Linked DNA regions of Homo sapiens. The protein of the gene in region 1 purifies or fractionates together with the protein of each later gene. This does not show direct contact. Each region holds a gene or a part of one and is shown on either strand. Other genes may lie near its edges. The genes, in order: ORC3 and LRWD1.

What was found.
Region 2: the proteins of ORC3 (region 1) and LRWD1 purify together in Homo sapiens (affinity purification with mass spectrometry; 4 studies listed by BioGRID and IntAct, with this or other methods). This does not show direct contact.

Annotation. Positions count from the first base shown.
Region 1 is NC_000006.12:87,605,289-87,615,256, forward strand, and holds part of ORC3 (origin recognition complex subunit 3), read left to right. Parts: intron 1-628; coding exon 629-733; intron 734-2,384; coding exon 2,385-2,536; intron 2,537-3,807; coding exon 3,808-3,941; intron 3,942-6,800; coding exon 6,801-6,960; intron 6,961-9,968. UniProt on the Homo sapiens protein: Component of the origin recognition complex (ORC) that binds origins of replication. DNA-binding is ATP-dependent. The specific DNA sequences that define origins of replication have not been identified yet.
Region 2 is NC_000007.14:102,459,823-102,469,817, forward strand, and holds the start of LRWD1 (leucine-rich repeat and WD repeat-containing protein 1), read left to right. Parts: upstream 1-5,161; 5' UTR 5,162-5,258; coding exon 5,259-5,338; exon of another isoform or gene 5,339-5,356; intron 5,357-5,919; exon of another isoform or gene 5,920-5,994; coding exon 5,995-6,229; intron 6,230-6,331; coding exon 6,332-6,448; intron 6,449-7,516; coding exon 7,517-7,657; intron 7,658-7,896; coding exon 7,897-8,001; intron 8,002-8,239; coding exon 8,240-8,365; intron 8,366-8,440; coding exon 8,441-8,555; intron 8,556-8,731; coding exon 8,732-8,832; intron 8,833-9,032; coding exon 9,033-9,240; intron 9,241-9,751; coding exon 9,752-9,824; intron 9,825-9,919; coding exon 9,920-9,995. Other genes in the region: ALKBH4 (alpha-ketoglutarate-dependent dioxygenase alkB homolog 4), read right to left, coding at 4,892-5,014. UniProt on the Homo sapiens protein: Required for G1/S transition. Recruits and stabilizes the origin recognition complex (ORC) onto chromatin during G1 to establish pre-replication complex (preRC) and to heterochromatic sites in post-replicated cells.

The DNA.
Region 1 (9,968 bases):
GGCCAGTTTTAATTTCCTTAAAGAGCTTGTTAGGAATTTGACAAAGCAATGAAATTACTTCTAAGATGTTTTCAAGGGTCGGCTGGGCACAGTGGCTCACGCCTGTAATCCCAGCACGTTGGGAGGCTGAGGCGGGTGGATCACTTGAGGTCGGGAGTTTGAGACCAGCCTGGCCAACGTGGTGAAACCCTGTCTCTATTAAAACTACAAAAATTAGCCGGTGTGGTGGCACATGCCTGTAATTCCAGCTACTCAGGAGGCTGAGGCAGGAGAATCACCTGAACTTGGGAGGTGAAGGATGCAGTGAGCTGAGATTGAGCTGCTGCACTCCAGCCTGGATGACAGAGCGAGATTCTGTCTCAAAAAAAAAAAAAAGAAGCTTTCAAGTGCACATCCCAGTAATTTGTTTGAAAGAGGAATTGTGCAAAATATCTTTCCTGACAAATATAGTTTATGCCTTTGGATAGCTATTGTTAATGGATATCATTTATATAGTATATTTCCTTGGTTTCTGTTATTAATCATTTTTTAAATGTTTTTACTTGTTTGCTTGATATGTTAAATAGCTTTTGTCATTAAATTATTATTAATAAAAATGGTGATGTAATATTGATGTATTATCTCATAGGTGTGAATGTCACAGATCATGATTTGACATTCGGAAGTCTAACAGAGGCCCTTCAGAATAATGTCACACCATATGTAGTCTCATTGCAAGCTAAAGATTGTCCAGGTAAAAATATAAATGCCATAATAACCTTGATGAGATGTTACAGACTTCTTTCATCCTTTTCTCTCTTTTTCAGGCTTTCTTTATCCCTTTTTTTGGTGGAAAGAACACAGTGCTATGTTTTAGGCAGGGTGAGGTTTGGGGGCTCTCAGAGTAATTGTGACTATTACAGAACTCTGCCTTCTTTTGCTGTCTTTGTTCTTGACCCATTTCTGCCCTATCAGCTTAACTGCCGGTAGCAGTCCAGGCATTTTGTGAGATGCATTCTTTAACCCAGTGAAACGTTTAATAAGTAGAAAGACTTAGGACAGAAAGCTGAGAATTGGGGAATGAGGAGCTCTTGTCAGCTCAAAAGAGAGTAGACCACATGGGCTCATGTTTCAGCCATAAATCATCTTATTGTCCCACTTTGAAAAGCCACCATGGTGAAAAATAGTCCACTGACAGAGGTAATCCTGAGCATGTGAACCCATGAAATCATAAAGAGTGTTCACACTAATATATTAAAAAGCTTTTTTTTTTTTTCTTTTGAGACAGGGTCTCACTCTGTTGCCTAGGCTGTACTACAGTAGCATGATCATAGCTCAGTGCAGCTTGAACTCCTGGCCTCAAGCAGTTCTCCCACTTCAGCTTCCCCAGTACCTAGGACTACAGGTGCATGCCATTACGCTCAGCTACATCAGCTACATTGTGGGGTTTTGTTGTTGTTGTTGTTTGTAGAGATTGGGTCTTGCTGTGTTGTCCAGACTGGTCTTGAACTCCTGGGCTCAAACAATCCTCCTGCCTTGGCTTCCCAAAGTGCTGGGATTACATCTTGAGTCACCATGCCTGGCCCTAATGTGGTAAAATTTGTTTGGATTAGATTGATAAAAGAGATTTATGTGCTTATATTGCTTTCATATTCATAAACTGATTGAAATTAAGTAAAAGCCCTTAAAGGCATCTTTAAAAATGGCTATATGAAAGATTTATAATCAGTAAAATAATTCATATGACACTTGATTTTTCTTAGGGAACTTGAAAACTGTTTATTTTCCTATGTAATTTAAATACATATTCCTAAAATTTATAGTTTGCATATCTACACATTTGCTTCTGTGACCTTTTTATTATAGATAATATACATAAATGGCTGGGAGCAGTGTTTGATGCTTGTAATCCCAGCACTTTGGGAGGCTGAGGCAGGCAGATCATGAGGTGAGGAGTTCGAGACCAGCCTGGCCAACATGGCAAAACCCCGTCTCTACTAAAAAATACAAAAATTAGCTGGGTATGGTGGCACGCGCCTGTAATCCCAGCTACTGGGGAGGCTTGAGGCAGGAGAATTGCTTGAACCCGGGAGGCAGAGGTTGTATTGAGCCGAGATCCTGCCACTGTACTCCAGCCTGGGCAACAGAGCGAGACTCCATCTCAAAAAAAAAAAATAAAGATAATATACATAAGCTTTGGTTTAGTCTTAGTCTGAATTAATGAAGGTACTAATGAGCATCAGTAGTTAATATGTTAAATGTTACATTAGCTGTATTGATGGTAAGTATAAAAAAACACATTCTACCAAAAAAAAAAGTAATACACTCAGCAAGAAGTTTCAAGAGCTTTGGTTTTATTTTTAGAAGAGGCAGAGATAAGCTTTCTTACTTTTTATATTCCACAGATATGAAACATTTTTTGCAAAAGTTGATCTCACAGTTGATGGACTGCTGTGTAGATATAAAATCCAAAGAGGAGGAAAGTGTTCACGTCACCCAAAGAAAGACACATTATTCAATGGATTCACTTTCCAGTTGGTATATGACTGTCACACAGGTAGATATAAACTGATGATTTTCTCCCAGGAAATTGACGTATGATTGATGTGGCTTGGAATAATATTAGACAGTACTGTTTTGATCTAACAAGGATATGTTTCTGCAGCACTAGGTGTTAATTTAAAAGTAGGTATTTATTTTTTCTAATGCTACTCGAATTTTAAAATGTTCTTTTATTAGTATGCAGCCTAATTCCAGGTAAGTGCTTAGGTTTTTACAAGGACATATTATTTGTTGGAGAATGTCCTCTAATGACAAAAACAGAGCATCAGGAATTGCTTCTGTTGCATGTTCCATCTCTGTGACAGTAACTATAACTTTAGTATATTATCTCTTATGTTCCTCAATGTTTGCTTTGTCCAATAGAACCATGCTGCTAGTATCCACTGTCAACTTAGTTCAATGAAGAATAATCATGTATTTTCTAAAGTCTAATTTGTTTTATGTTTAGAGTTCTTAGGGAATCAGTGTTCTTTAAGTAAAGTATGTTAGACAAACAGATAAGTAAAAAGAAGTTCCATTCTACCATGACAGTCTGGTGAAAAATAATAACCTAGGTTAACACTAGGTAATTGCGTCATAAAACCATAGTCTTAGGTTATGGTGCTGTGTAGCCAGACAGTATGGGAAAAAAAATACTGTGGTTACATTTTCCAATCAACATTTTTGCTGAAATCATCGTAAGTGAAGTTTCATTTTGCTTTATATAGGGACTAAACTACGTCTAATACTTACCATAATACCTGATTTGCTCCACAATTTTAGACTTTCCAGATAAAATGCTACTTTTGGTTTATGTCAGATATCTTTTTAAAAATTGAGATTGGACCAGATGATACCTAGTATCCATTTCAGGCTTGAAATTTCACAGTGGCAGAGTAGCAAGCACTACTATTCATTATATTTTTTTCATTAAAAATACTAGTTCTCACTATAAAGCAAAGCAGAATATAACTTTCTACCAACAGAAAAATCAATTTTGTAGAAAATTTCCTCTTCCATGTTTTTTTCTGTCATTTCCTTAGCAGAAAATATAAATATTTCATATGAGTTATAGATTTTTACTGAACCTTTTTCTTCTTGGTTATTATTCCCATGTCAGACACAGCAAGATTCTAGTAACCTGAGTTTCTATTTATCGTGTGGTAGAAAAAAAATAAACAGTGTTATTGTGAAATTTAAAGAGAGATATGTCAACATGTGGCATTATAACATTGTTTGAGTGGTAAGGCTTACCTTTAACTCTTTCTTTCTGCAATGGCTTAAAAGAAGACGGACCCAAAAATGCTAAGCAAAAAAAGGACTACTTCTAGCCAATGGCAGTCTCCTCCTGTTGTCGTTATCTTGAAGGATATGGAAAGCTTTGCCACAAAAGTACTACAAGACTTCATAATTATCAGCAGGTAGATGGTGTATTACCTGGCTTTTATGAAAAACTCCCTTTTTAAGAAAATACTACTTTTAACTTGAAAAGTATAATCTTCATTTTAATACCAACTGGATAAAAATCAAAGTATTCAAATTCTTTATAATTGAATATTCAAAGACTTCCTATCAGATTTTCCATTTGCTTTTTGAGCCAAGAATGAGAATCAAAGGCACATTTAGCCAGTTTTAAATTGACATGGTAAGATAGTATTAAATATGGTTTTTCTCACCAAGATTGACTGTCTCTTACTCACCCATTAAATAGATAAACTACTCCAGGTTGAGTTTGTTGTTTTTGTTTTTTTCTTTTTTTTTTTTGAGATGGAGCTTTGTTCTGTTGCCCAGGCTGGAGTGCAGTGGTACGATCTCGGCTCACTGCAGCCTCCGCCTCCTGGGTTCAAGCAATTCTGCCTCAGCCTCCTGAGTAGCTGGGATTACAGGTGCCCACCACCACACCTGGCTAATTTTTGTATTTTTAGTAGAAACAGAGTTTCACCATGTTGGCCAGGCTGTTCTCGAACTCCTGACCTCAGGTGATCTGCCTGCCTCGGCCTCCCAAAGTGCTGGGATTACAGGAGTGAGCCACCATACCTGGCTAAGTTGAGATTTTTATTAGGTCTTATTTTCTGATACCCATCCATCCTTAGATGCTCTGAGTTGCATATAGTTTTACTAAGCAAAAGTGTCTTCTAAATAACATTATTTTGCATTTATATAATACTTCTAGTGAGAAACTATTTTCACGATTGCATTGCGTCTTCAAAGCAATCATGTGAGACTCAGAATTGAAATAATGAACTCTTATTTTAAAATCCAGTGACATGCATTTTCCCTGGTGTATTTTTTAGGATGGAATTTATTTTGGCCTCTTCTATATGTCAACTTGTTTTAATAGTTATAGCTACATTTGCCTAAAGCTATATATTGTGTTAAATAATTTACTAGTATACTTTATTTTTATTTTTATTTTTGGAGACAGAGTCTCGCTCTGTCCCCCAGGCTGGAGTGCAGTGGCGCCTTCTCAACTCCCTGCCACCTCCGCCTCCCGGGTTCAAGCAGTTCTCATGCCTCAGCCTCCCAAGTAGCTGGGATTACAGGTGCCCGCTGCCACGCCTAGCTAATTTTTGTATTTTTAGTAGAGACAGGGTTTCACCATATTAGCCAGGCTGGTCTCAAACTCCTGACCTCAGGTGATCTGCCTTCCTTAGTGCTCTTTGGGGCCTCCCAAAGTGCTAGGATTACAGACATGAGCCACCACACCCAGCTAATTTACTAATATACTTTATTTTTTTTTATTTTTTATTTTTTTTGAGACGGAGTCTCGCTCTGTCGCCCAGGTCGGACTGCGGACTGCAGTGGCGCAATCTCGGCTCACTGCAAGCTCCGCTTCCCGGGTTCACGCCATTCTCCTGCCTCAGCCTCCCGAGTAGCTGGGACTACAGGCGCCCGCCACCGCGCCTGGCTAATTTTTTGTATTTTTAGTAGAGACGGGGTTTCACCTTGTTAGCCAGGATGGTCTCGATCTCCTGACCTCATGATCCACCCGCCTCGGCCTCCCAAAGTGCTGGGATTACAGGCGTGAGCCACCGCGCCCGGCCTACTAATATACTTTAAATTTCTACTTTGATAGGATCTTTTTTCCTTCATTGATTCTAAGAGTTCTATATATTAGGACTTTTCTTTTTTTTTTTTTTTTTTTTGAGACAGGGTCTGGCTCTGTCACCCAGGCTAGAGCGCAGTGACATGATCTTGGCTCACTGCACCCTCCACCTCCTGGGCTTAAGCAGTCCTCCCTTCTCAGGTCCCCAAGTAGCTAGGACTATAGGCACACACCACCATGCCCGGCTAATTTTTGTATTTTTTGTAGAGATGGGGTTTTGCCGTGTTGCCCAGGCTGGTCTCAAACTCTTGGCCTCAAGAGATCTGCCCTCCTCAGTCTCCCAACGTGCTGGGATTACAGACATGAACCATCGCACCCAGCCCAGATCCTAGGACTTGCATGAACCATTGCACCCAGCCCAGATCCTAGGACTTTTCTTAATGCTGACACTGAACTGCTTAGCATGCTTGGAAAGTACATAGTACAAAATAGTGACAGAAAAGCTGTACTTTTTTTTGGAGCTTAGACTTAATGACTACCTTAGCCATCAAAAGTGAGGAAGACTATAGAAAGGGCTCAAACTTTGAATGAGATATTAAATGGAATGGTATCTAACATCTCTTCTAACACTTAAGATTGTATAATCTTCGGCCCGGGCATGGTGGCTCACGCCTGTAATCCCAGCACTTTGGGAGGCCGAAGTGGGTGGATCACATGAAGTCAGGAGTTTGAGACCAGCCTGACCAATATGGTGAAACCCCATCTCCACTAAAATTAAAAAATTAGGCATGGTGGCACGCACATGTAGTCCCAGCTACTCGGGAGGCTGAGGCAGGAGAATCGCTTGAACCCAGGAGGTGGAGGTTGCAGTGAGCCGAGATTGCACCACTGCACTCCAGTCTGGGTGACAGAGCAGGACTCCATCTGAAAAAAAAAAAAGAAAAAAGATGGTATAATCTTCAGGAAAACTTTCTGGACCTCTCTGTTCTTATTTATAAAATGAGAGGATTTATTAAGAGATTGATTTCAAAGCTAGACTGTCTGGAAAGTAATTATTTCTCTGTTTAATAGAAGAAAGTGAAAGACTTAGAAAATTTTAGTGTTTGCAATGATAATCCTTAACAGTGTCTTATAAAGTAAGCATTAAAATAAAGTTTGTCTTATGTTGAAATATGATGTATTGAAATATATTTGCTAAATAAATTTCACTTTTGTGTCTGTCTTTCAAAACTAGTCAACATCTCCATGAATTTCCACTAATACTCATTTTTGGAATAGCCACATCTCCTATTATCATCCACCGATTGCTTCCTCATGCAGTATCATCTCTATTGTGCATAGAACTGTTCCAATCTTTGTCTTGTAAGGAGCACCTGACTACGGTACTCGATAAGGTAAAAAGAATAAGTTTTACCAGTGAAATAGGATGAAAAGAAAACTGCCAATAATAGATTGTTAAGATAACTGTTAACAATAAGCCTCTACAACTCTCTGAGTACTATATTGAACATATTCCTTCACATACTTTAATATTTTTACTTAATAATTTTTGTAGTGTTTTATAGTTTTACAGTGATTTTGTATATTACCTCTTCAGGTAAAATATAAGCTTTATGAAAAGAGTGATCATATCTCTCTATGTACTTAATCTCTTTATATCTTTACTCAATAGAAAATTATAGGTTTATAATGTAAATTTTTACAGAATTTGTAGACTTTGTAGTAACAATGTATTTTGACTCTTACATTTTGATTTTTCTAATTTTTATTTTTTTGAGAAGGAGTCTAGCTCTGTCATCCAGGCTGGAGTGCAGTGACGAAATCTTGGCTCACTGCAACCTCTGCCTCCCAGGTTCAAGTGATTCTCCTGCCGCAGCATCTCAAGTAGCTGGGACTTCATGAGGTGTGCCGCCACGCCTGGCTAATTTGTATTTTTAGTAGACACAGGGTACCATATTGGCCAGGCTGGTCTGGAACTCCTGACCTCAAGTGATCTACCTGCCTTGGCCTCCCAAAGTGCTGGGATTACAGGCATGAGCCGCCACACCCAGCCTGACTCCTTACATTTTGTATAAAATGATTTGAAGTTTTTAGTGGACTGTTTCCTAACTGATTTGTCATGCTGCTCTTGACAACAAATACTAACATTTTCCTAGACCTTAGCAACTAAAGTTAATTAACTATGTTTCTACATAAATGCAAGTATGATTCTTTAATATTGACTGTATTAGTCTGTTCTCACGCTGCTGATAAAGACACACCTGAGACTGGGCAATTTACAAAAGAAAGAGGTTTAATGGACTCATAGTTCCACTTGGCTGGGGAGGCCTCACAATCATGGTGGAAGGCAAGGAGGAGCAAGTCACATCTTACATAGATGGCAGCAGGCAAAGTGAGAGAGCTTGTACAGGGGAACTCCTCTTTATAAAACCATCAGATCTCATGAGACTTATTCACTATCATGAGAACAGCACAGGAAAGACTTGCTCCCATGATTCAATTACCGCCCACCAGGTCCCTCCCATAGCACTTGGGAATTCAAGATGAGATTTGGGTGGGGACACAACCAAACCATATCATTCTGCCCCTGGCCCCTCCCAAATCACATGTCCTCACATTTCAAAACCAATCATGCCTTCCCAACAGTCCCCCAAAGTCCTAACTCATTTCAGCATTAACTCAATAGTCCACAGTCCAAAGTCTCATCCGAGACAAGGCAAGTCCCTTCTGCCTATGAGCCTGTAGAATCAAAAGCAAGTTAGTTACTTCCTAGATACAATGGGGGTACAGGCATTGGGTAAATACAGCCATTCCAAATGGGAGAAATTGGCCAAAACAAAGGAGTTACAGGCCCCATGCAAATCTGAAATCCAGCGAGGTAGTCAAGTCTTACAGCTCCAGATGATCTCCTTTGACTCCATTTCTCACATCCAGGTCATGCTGATGCAAGAGGTGGGTTCCCATGGTCTTTGGCAGCTTCACCCCTGTTGCTTTGCAGGTTACAGCCTCCCTCCTGGCTGCCTTCATGGGCTGGTGTTAAGTGTCTGCAGCTTTTCCAGGCACACGGTGCAAGCTGTTGGTGGATCTACCATTCTGGGGTGTAGAGGATGGTAGCCCTTTTCTCACAGCTCCACTAGGCAGTGCCCCAGTAAGGACTCTGTGTGGGGACTCCAACCCCACATTTCCCTTTCACACTGCCCTAGCAGAGGTTCTCCATGAGGACCCTGCCCCTACAGCAAACTTCTGCCTGGACACCCAGGCTTTTCCATACATCTTCTGAAATCTAGACGGAGGTTCCCACACCCCAGTTCTGTGCACTCACAGGCTCAACACGATGTGGAAGCTGCCAGGGCTTGGGGCTTGCACTCTCTGAAGCCGTGGCCCGAACTTTGTGTTGGCCCTTTTCAGCCACAGCTGGAGTGGCTAGGACACAGCACCAATTTCCTAAGCTGCACACAGCACGGGGACTCTGGGCCCAGCCCGTGAAATCGCTTTTGCCTCCTAGGTCTCCAGGCTTGTGATGGGAGGGGCTGCCATGAAGACCTCTGACATGCCCTGGAGATATTTTCTCCATTGTTTTGGGGATTAACGTTTGGCTCTTTGTTACTTACGGAAATTTCTGCAGCTGACTTGAATTTCTCCTCAGAAATGGGATTTTCTTTTCTATCTCATTGTCAGGCTGCAAATTTTCCAAACTTTTATGCCCTGCTTCCCTCATAAAATGGAATGCCTTTAACAGAACTCAAGTCACCTCTTGAATGCTTTGCTGCTTAGAAATTTGTTCCTCAGGATACCCAAAATCATCTCCCTCAAGTTCAAAGTTCCACAAATCTCTGGGGCAGGGGCAAAATGCCGCCAGTCTCTTTGCTAAAACATAACAAGAGTCACCTTTGCTCCAGTTTCCAACAAGTTTGTCATCTCCATCTGAGACCCCCTCAGCCTGTTTCATTGTCCATATCATTATCAGCATTTTGGTCAAAGACATTCAATAAGTCTCTAGGTAGTTACAAACTTTCCCACATTTTCCTGTCTTCTGAGCCCTCCAAACTGTTCCAACCTCTGCCTGTCATCCAGTTCCAAAGTCACTTCCACATTTTTGGGTATCTTTTCAGCAGTGCCCCACTCTACTGGTACCAATTTACTGTATTAGTCTGTTCTCACACCGCTGATAAAGACATAGGCGAGACTGGGCAATTTACAAAAGAAAGAGGTTTAATGGACTCAGTTCCACATGGCTGGGGAGGCCTCAATCATGGTGGAAGGCAAGGAGGAACAAATCACATCTTACATGGCTGGTAGCAGGCAAAGAGAGAGAGCTTGTGCAGGGGAACTCCTCTTTATAAAACCATCAGGTTTCATAAGACTTATTCACTGTCATGAGAACAGCATGGGAAAGACTTTT
Region 2 (9,995 bases), on another chromosome or scaffold:
ACAGGCTGGGCAACACAGCGAGACCCGGTCCCTACGAAAAGTTAAAACAGGCCAGGTGCGGTGGCTCACGCCTGTAATTCCAGCACTTTGGGAGGCCGAGGTGGGTGGATCACCTGAGGTCAGGAGTTCAAGACCAGCCTGGCCAACATGGTGAAACCCCATCTCTACTAAAAATACAAAAATTAGCCAGGCATGGTGGCAGGTGCCTGTAATCCCAGCTACTCAGGAGGCTGAAGCTGGAGAATTGCTTAAACCCAGAAGGCAGAGGTTGCAGTGAGCCAAGATGGCACCACTGCACTCCAGCCTGGGCGACAGAGTGAGACTCAAAAAAAAAAAAAAAGTTTAAATAAAAATTAGCCGGGTGTGGCAGAGCGCACTTGTCATTTCAGCTACTCAGGAGGCTGAGGCGGGAGGATCATTTGAGCCCAGGAGGTTGAGGCTACAGTGAGCCATGGTCGCGCTACTGCACTCCAGCCTGGACAACAAAGCAAGACCCTGTCTCAAAAAAAAAAAAAGAAAAAAAAAAAAGGAAAGACACATCCTGGAGCCATGGCAGCCCCTGGCACTTGTGTGCCCTCAGGAGACCCTCTGATGGCTCATTCCTCCCCTCAGGACACTGTGGAAGGCAGCTGGAGTCTAGGGGGAGGTGCAGGCAGAGCCTCTGCCCCAGGCTGACCGGGGAAGGCCCGCAGCCCTCTTGAGCTAACACGAATTTGATTGGTTTCCTTTCTCACTTTCCTCCCCTGTAAAAGAGAAGGGTTTGTACAACATGTTTTTCCTTCTCCATTTTACAAAGGAGGCTCAGCAAAGTTAAGGAACCAGCCCGAGGCTGGACAGCACCTCCTGCACTCCCATCTCCTCAGCTGCTTCCAGGAGGCCCCAAACTGCCTGACTACCTTGAATCTGTGCACCCTAATCTCTTTAGGTCTTTGCTGATGCCACCCCGGTGTCCCAGGGGTTGGCCCGTGCCTATCACCAGCGTGAGGGTCACCTAGGAGGGCAGCCAACTTCCCTACAGAGCTGAGCGTTCAGTTGAGCTCCTCAGTGTCCCAACCTCCCTTCTCCTCACTCTTGTCCTCAGGGCACCTTTCCAGACCCAGCATCACCCCTCAATCCTCATACCCTGGGCTGTCACTCAACTCCCACCCCATGTCCCTCTCTGCTCTGCCACCAACCCCGAGGCCTGGCGGTACTCTAAGGGTTCCCCCATGCTAAAGAAAGTCTAGAAACCAGGCCAGGCACGGTGGCTCACACCTGTAATCCCAACACTTTGGGAGGCCAAGGTGGACTGATCACCTGGGGTCAGGAGTTCAAGACCAGCCTGGCCAACATGGCAAAACCCCGTCTCTATTAAAAATACAAAAACTAGCCGGGCGTCGTGGTGCATGCCTGTAATCCCAGCTACTCAGGTGGCTGAGGCAGGAGAATCCCTTGAACCCGGGAGGTGGAGATTGCAGTGAGCCAAGATCGTGCTAGTGGACACCAGCCTGGGTGACACAGTGAGACCCCATCTTGAAAATAATAATAATACTTTTTGTTTGTTTGTTTGTTTGTTTGAGATGGAGTCTCGCTCTGTCACCAGAACTGGAGTGCAGTGGCACGATCTCGGCTCACTGCAACCTCTACCTCCTGGGTTCAAGCGATTCTCCTGCCTCAACCTCCCGAGTAGCTGGGACTACAGGTGCGCGCCACCATGCCCAGCTAATTTTTTTCTTGTATTTTAGTAGAGACGAGGTTTCACCATGTTGACCAGGATGGTCTTGAACTCCTGACCTTGTGATCCTCCCGCCTTGGCCTCCCAAAGTGCTGGGATTACAGGCGTGAACCACCATGCCCAGCCAATAGTAAATTTTTAAAAAAGAGTTTCGCCAATGAAATAGCCAGTATTTGCATCTGTGGCACTGAACATTTTACATGGATTATCTAGTTTCATCCCCAGGACAGCCCCAAGAGGAAGGTACCATAACTATCATGGGCAGGAGGTGTGGAGGTTCTGGCCGGAGTCACCCAGTGAGGACTTCGGAGGCCACCAGAACTCAGCCCTGGGCTCTGTGGCCTGTCTCCTCTTCCTCTTCCATCTCCAGGCTCCTCACACCCTGGGCTGCCACTCACTGTGGGCCGCTGTCTTTCTCTGTTCTTCCCTCCAGGGACCTCAGCCCCTTCCAATGCTTTACTTCCAGCCACCGACTCCAGCTCAGACCCCTCCTGAGATTGGCACTATCTCCTCCTGCTCCTGGGGCCCTCCCACGGGAAACATTAAAACTGGGAGTCCCCCGTGTGTCGGCTGAGCAGGCTGGACTTGTCCGAAAGGCCATGGAGCGCTCTTGAAGGGTTTTAAAGGAGTGACGAGGTCAAATGTGAATTTTAGAAAGATCTGGAGGGGGGAGGGGCAGATATGAAGGGTGGAGGCTGGAAAGCCAGTGAGGAACTGCCCCAGTGCCCTGAGATCCTGGATACCTCACTCTCCTTGTTCCATAGCCATCGGGTTGGGAAGATGTCACCTCCACATGGCCACTGGAACGGGTCAGACTTTCCGCAATTTTTTTCTTTTCTTTTTTTTTGTTTGAGGCAGGGTCTCGCTCTGTCACTCAGGCTGGAGTGTAGTGGCGCTCACAGCTCACTGCAGCCTTGACCTCCTGGGCTCAGGCAATCCTCCCACCTCAGCCTCCCAAGTAACTGGGACTACAAGCACACACCACCACACCTAGCTAATTTTTAAATTTTTTGTAGAGACAGGGTCTTGCTATGTTGTCCAAGCTGGTCTCAAACTCCTAGACTCAGGCGAGCCTCCTGCCTCAGCCTCCCAAAGGGCTGGGATTATAGGCATGAGCCACCGCACCTGGCCCCTTCCACAAATTAAAACTCTTAAGTTCATTCATATTGTTGTACAGCCGTCACCACCATTCAGAACTTTTTCATCTTGCAAAACTGAAACTCTTTCCCTATTAAACAACAGGTCCCCATCTCCCCTTCCTGAGCCCTTGGCAACAACCCTTCTACTTTCTGTCCCTGTGACTACCCTACGTAGCTCACACAACAGGAATCATGCAGTATTTGTCTTCTGTGACTGCTTCCTTAACTTAGCATCGTGTCCCCAAGGTTCGTCCATGCTGTAACATATGTCAAAATGTCCTTTTTTTTTTTTTTTTTTTTGAGACAGGGTCTCACTATGTTGCCCAAGCTGGAGTGCAGTGGCGTGATCACAGCTCACTGCAGCCTTGACCTCCCAGGCTCAAGCAACCCTCCCACCTCAGCCTCCTGGGTAGCTGGGACTACAGGTACGTGTCACCATGTATGGTTAATTTTTTTGTAGAGGTGGGATTTCACCATGTTGCCCATGCTGGTCTCAAACTCCTGGGCTCTGGCAATCTGCCTGCCTCGGTCTCCCAAAGTGCTGGAATTACAGGTGTGAGCCACTGTGCCCGGCCTGTCCTTCCTTTTTAAGGCTGAATAGTATTCTACTATGTGTATGCACCACATTTTGTGGATCAAGTCATCTCTTTTTTTTTTTTTTTTTTTTTTTTTGAGAAGGAGTCTTGCTCTGTCACCTGAGCTGGAGTGCAGTGGTGCGATCTTGGCTCACTGCAACCTCTGCCTCCTGGGTTCAAGCGATTCTCCTGCCTCAGCCTCCCGAGTAGCTGGGATTACAGATGTGCCTCACCAAGCCCGGCAAGTTTTTGTAATTTTAGTAGAGGCAGGGTTTCGCCATGTTAGCCAGGCAGGTCTCAAACTCCTGACCTCAGGTGATCTGCCCACCTCAGCCTCCCAAAGTGCTGGGATTACAGGCGTGAGCCACTGAACCCGGCCCAGGTATCTTGATAGATGCTTGGTTTGCTTCCATCTTTGGGCTGTCATGAATAATGTCGTGAATATGAACATGGGTGTGCAAATATCTCTTCCAGACCCTGCTTTTAGTTCCTTTGGATATATACCCAGAAGCAGGATTGCGGATCATGGGTAATTCTATGTTTAATTCATGAGGCATGCCATGCTGTTTCCATAGGACCTTGGGCACTTTTACCATGGACGTTGGGGCAGTCTTCACTGGCTTACCAGCCTCCACACCTTCATATCTGCCCGTTCCCTTCCCAGGATCTTTCTAAAATTCACATTTGACTTCATCACTCCTTTAAAACCCTTCAAGAGCTCTCCAGGGCCTTTGGGACAAGTCCAGCCTGCTCAGCTGATGCACCGGGGAGCATCTGTGATCAGACCTCCCCCCCCCCACAACCTCTCCAGCCTCATCTCTCTCACCTGAGGCATCACCAATCCACCTTCCTACCCCACGCAGTTTTCTGGGTTGGAATGCCCTTGCAACCAACCACAGTCCTTCCATGCCAGCCCAAAGGCGCTGAGTTCTTTTTCTTTTTTTATTTATTTTCTTTTTGTGAGACAGAGTCTCGCTCTGTCGCCCAGGCTGAAGTGAGGTGGCTCGATCATAGCTCACTGCAGCCTCCAGCTCCTGGGTTGCAGCGATCCTTGAGTTCCTTTTCGTTAGTTAACTGGAATTCACTGTCTCCTTGCCCATTGCAGTCCACGGCCTTCAGGCACCGTTGGACTGGTATTCAGCACCCTCGATCGACCCTTTCCGTGTCATCTCCCTGCAGGCCCGTGAAGCTCCCAGCGCCAGACCCGAGAGGCTACGTCGAGGTTTACAGGCAGATCCCCCCAGAGTCCCCGAGGTGACCTGTAATCGAACCCACCCACGTTCCAGCTCCTTCCCCACTCCCAAGCCCGCTCCTTAAAGCCCTCATCTCCTCACCCTGCATCACCCCTACCGTAAGGGTCCCTCACAGGCTTCGATCCCGGCCCCTATCATGGCCAAGCTGGACCTCAGTTTCCCCAGATGCAGAGCGACGTTTGTGGGCGCGGCCCCTCTCCCACCCCTTACCGCTGGGGGCAGCTCCCAGGGCGGGTCACTGCCGCGCTGCCGCTCGCAGATCAGACAGGTCCGGATGCCCTTGCAACCGCATTCCCGAAGGACTTCGGGGGTCTCGGCGGCAGCCGCCGCCATCGCGCCGTCCGCGTGGCCAGTGCGCAGGCGCGGCCGTGGGGGCCGCTGGGAGTTGTAGTCCGCGCCGGGCGGGGGCACGAGGCCTGGGTTCCGCTTCCTTCCGGTCGTTAACGCCCACGGGCTCGCGCGGCGCCGCCTCCTGGGCTCAGTTACCGCGGACGCCAGTGCCGGGCTCCAGGAGACGCAGGGCGACGCCACACGCCGGGGTGGCCGACTGGGTCAGCGCGGGCTGCGCCTCCTCGCCATGGGCCCCCTCTCGGCGCGGCTGCTAATGCAGCGCGGGCGCCCCAAGAGCGACCGGCTGGGGAAGATCCGGAGTCTGGAGTAAGAGCCGGGCAGCGGGTGAGGCTGTGTCCTCGGGGCCGGGCGGTCGGGGAGAAGAGCGGGGACCCTCCCCAACGGCCCGCTTGTCCCCGTTATCGCCCTCTGGGTTCGGCAGAGTGGTCCAAATGTCTTCTTGTTGGGAGATCGTGGCCCCACCCGCTCGCCGGGAGCCCCGAGGGGCCTCATCCCCTGAAGGGAGCCCGGACAGTTAGGGGCACAGCCTGCCGCTATCGTTAGAGGGCCTGGGAAGCACAGACGAGCCCCCGAAGGATCAGGAAGAGCATCCTAGAGGGGGCTAGGATGCCCCCGAGTCCTAAAGTAGTTGCAGCTTTTTTTTTTTTTTTTTTTTTTTTTTTTTTTTTTTTGTTAAGTGGTGTGGAGTCGGGAGTAGTGGCGCGCGCTTCTAGTCCCAGCTACTCGAGAGGCTGAGGCGGGAGGATCCCTCAGCCCAGGAGTTGGAGGCAGCTGTGAGCTATGATCGCGCCTAGGCGACTGAGTGACACCCCGTCTCTAAAAATAAAGTAACGGGGGGATGGGCGGGGCGGCTACACTTGTACGAGAAATGTCAGGTGAAAAAGCCTTCTGAGGTACCCGGGGCAGATTGGTGTAGGGTGCAAAGCCTGCCCGCCCCCTAAGCCTTCTGCCCCCAACTCCAGCCTGTCAGGATTGGAGCTGCTTTCCGAGCACCTGGACCCCAAACTCCTGTGCCGCCTGACGCAGCTGCAGGAGCTTGACCTGTCTAACAACCACCTGGAGACGCTGCCGGACAACCTGGGCCTGTCCCACCTGCGTGTCCTCCGCTGCGCCAACAACCAGCTGGGGGATGTTACTGCCTTGTGCCAGTTCCCCAAGCTCGAGGAACTCAGCCTGGAGGGCAACCCCTTCCTGACGGTAAGTGGGAGCCTCCCACCAGCTTCATACCTGGGGCCAGGACTCTGTTGGGCTCAGGCTCAGCATCTCCTGAGCCACTGCTCTTCACCCTCTCTTCCCCAGGTCAATGACAACCTGAAAGTCTCCTTTCTCCTGCCCACGCTCCGTAAGGTCAATGGCAAGGATGCGTCCTCAACTTACTCTCAGGTGGAGAACCTGAATCGGGAGCTGACCAGCAGGGTAAGGGGATGAGAGGATTATTGTGTGCTTAGGAGCTGTGGGGGCATTGGGAGAATGATAGAATTGGACATCAGGAGGATGTTGAGGAGGGTGACTGATAGAGGCTCTTTGCCCCAACAGCCCCTAGCCTGATGTGCTACTTTATTTATTTATTTATTTTTTGAGATGGAGTCTCACTCCGTCGCCCAGGCTGGAGTGCAGTGATGCGATCTTGGCTCATTGCAACCTCTGCCTCCCAGGTTCAAGTGATTTTCCTGCCTCAGCCTCCCGAGTAACTAGGATTACAAGCACCTGCCACCATGCCCAGCTAATTTTTTTTGTATTTTTAGTAGAGACAGGGTTTCACCATGTTGGCCAGGCTGGCCTCAAACTCCTGGCCTTAGGTGATCTGCCCGCCTTGGCCTCCCAAAGTGTCGGGATTACAGGTATGAGTCACCACACCCGGCCTGACTCTTCTAAGTAGCTTTTTCTGGGGTGTTTCTTTTTTACCTTTTTTTTTTTTTTTTTTTTTTTTTTTTTTTTTTTTTAGAGACAGGGTCTCGCTCTGCTGCCCATGTTGAAGTGCAGTGGTGTGATCGTATCTCACTGCAGCCTCCAACTCCTGGGCTCAAGCGATCTTCCCGCCTTAGCCTTCTGAATAGCTGGGGCTTTAGGCGCATGCCACCACGTCTGGATCATTTTAAAATTTTTTGTAGAGATGGGATCTTGCTCTGTTCCCCAGGCTCCAACTCCTGGCCTCAAGCGATGCTTCTTCCTCAGCCTCCCAGTGGCTGGGACTATAGGCACCTGGGTTGTTGCTGGTGTGTGTGTGTGTGTGTGTGTGTGTAGGCACCTGGGTTGTTGCTGGGGTGTGTGTGTGTGTGTGTGTAGGCACCTGGGTTGTTGCTGGGGTGTGTGTGGGGTGTGTGTGTGTGTGTGTGTGTGTGTGTGTGTGTGTGTGTGTGTTTTATGAGGCTGTGATTCCAGGAGGCTTCCAGCAGGTGGCGGGATTGAGATTCCCTGAGATGGAGGGCTGGGTCCGGAGGAGCTGGGGTGGGCCGGGCCTGGATCTGGTCCCTCTTGCACCAGGTCACAGCTCACTGGGAGAAGTTCATGGCCACACTGGGTCCTGAAGAGGAGGCTGAGAAGGCCCAGGCGGACTTTGTGAAGTCGGCTGTCAGGGATGTCCGCTACGGGCCCGAGTCCCTCAGCGAGTTCACCCAGTGGCGGGTATGTCCCTGTCCCAATGTGCAGGGAGTCACTGGCTCTCGTATCTCTAGCTGCCTGGAGGTCCCTGGCCATGAAGGGCTGAGGGGCTGTGGGAGTGGGGTGAGTCAGGGTGGGCAGCCCTGTTGGCTGGAGAGGCCCTTCCCCAACTCTGGAAGCATAAGCTCCCCCTGACTATGCATCGGCAGGGCTGGGGGCACCTGGGACTCTGCCCAGCTTCCTGATGGCCTGGCCCCACCCAGGTGCGGATGATCTCTGAGGAGCTGGTGGCCGCCAGTAGGACCCAGGTGCAAAAGGCTAACAGCCCAGAGAAGCCCCCAGAAGCTGGAGCTGCCCACAAGCCCAGGGTGAGTGCAGCTCCCAGGGCTCTGAGGCCAGCCCAGTCCCTCCTCCCTGGAGAAGCTTCAGGAGACCAAGGCGTCCTGGGCATGTGCCCAGGAAGCACCCCAGGTCCTGGCTCACTCCCTAGGTGACCCCGGGCCAGCCTGGGCCTCCTGCATCCGCAGTGAGGTGGGGTCCAGCCTGTGATGGGGAGGAAGGAAGCCCCAGGCAGACAGGCCCATGGTCACAAGGCCCCCTCCACAGGCCAGACTGGCGGCCTTGAAACGGCCAGACGACGTCCCACTCAGCCTCTCTCCCAGCAAGCGGGCGTGTGCCTCCCCGTCGGCCCAGGTGGAGGGCAGCCCTGTGGCAGGCTCCGATGGCAGCCAGGTGAGCTGAGGTGGCAAGGAGCAGGTGGCAGATGAGTCGGGGCTGGGCAGCTGTGACCCTTCTCTCCCCCCACAGCCTGCTGTGAAGCTGGAGCCCCTGCACTTCCTGCAGTGCCACAGCAAGAACAACAGCCCCCAGGACCTCGAGACCCAGCTGTGGGCCTGTGCCTTCGAGCCGGCCTGGGAGGAGGGTACATGGTGGCGGGCAGGCGGGGCAAGGGCCGCTGGAAATAGGGCCGCCTGGATGGGTGGGGGATCAGGAGACAGAGCTTAAAAGGCGCCATCAAGGCTGGGAGGAGGAGGCTGCAGGGAGGACCTAGATGGGAAATGTCTCTGCTCATCCGACCTCTCAAAACCGGGCACTCAGGGGCCACATCCCAGACCGTGGCCACGTGCGGCGGGGAGGCTGTGTGCGTAATTGATTGCCAGACGGGCATCGTGCTCCACAAGTACAAGGCACCCGGCGAGGTGAGTGCAAGGCCCTGTCCCTGCTGGGCAAGGGTGCCCGACTGACTCCTGAACAGCAGCATGGGGATGGATGCAGGCTCGGCCCCCTGCCCCATGGCCTTTTTCTTTCATGCTGGGGCTCCCTCCCCCAGGCCCGGGCTACCCGCGTGTTCACACCAATAGCTCTGCCCCAGTGACTGTTTACTCTAACCCCCGCCCAGGAGTTCTTTTCTGTGGCCTGGACCGCTCTGATGGTGGTCACACAGGCTGGCCACAAGAAGCGCTGGAGTGTGCTGGCGGCTGCAGGCCTACGGGGCCTGGTCCGGCTGCTGCACGTGCGTGCCGGCTTCTGCTGCGGGGTCATCCGAGCCCACAAGAAGGCCATCGCCACCCTGTGCTTCAGCCCCGCCCACGAGACCCATCTCTTCAGTAAGCCCCTCCCCTTCACCCCTGGGACCCCCAAGCACCCCTGTCCTGCTGCCCCAGTAGCCTCCACGCTCCCCTCCCTGGGATGGCTGTGAGCTCGGGCGCCTGCCGGGCCCCAGTCTGCACCGCTCCGACTCTAGCTTTGGCAGGAAGCCATGTCGCTTCAACCCTGGCTTTATCCACAGCCTGCTCTGTGGCCTCGGAGTTTTCCAACAGCCTGGGCCACTCTGTCCCCTGTCAGTGACCTGGGGGGATGCCCCTGCCCCCGGGTGTGGCGCCCCTGTCAAGGGGGATGGATGAGCCACAGGAAGTGGCCGCTGGAGCCACCGCATCAGGTTAGATGGAGGAAACAGGGATTGGGGGCCCAGGAGTGTTCCTGTCTCCTAGCCTCGGCCCGCCCTCCCCGCCTCGGAGGGGCTGGCCTTGGGACCGTGGGCTCAGCCTGGGATGCAGCCAGCAGGAGGGAGCAGGGTCATCTCAGGGCCACTTCTCCCCTACCCCACCCCCTCTTCAGCGGCCTCCTATGACAAGCGGATCATCCTCTGGGACATCGGGGTGCCCAACCAGGACTACGAATTCCAGGCCAGGTGATGCTTCGGGTGAGGCTGGGGAGTGGCCAGCTGCTGGGGCAGGGACACCTCGGTCTGGGTCTGATGCTCTGTTCCCCCTTGCCCACTGGCAGCCAGCTGCTCACACTGGACACCACCTCTATCCCCCTGCGCCTCTGCCCTGTCGCCTCCTGCCCGGACGCCCGCCTG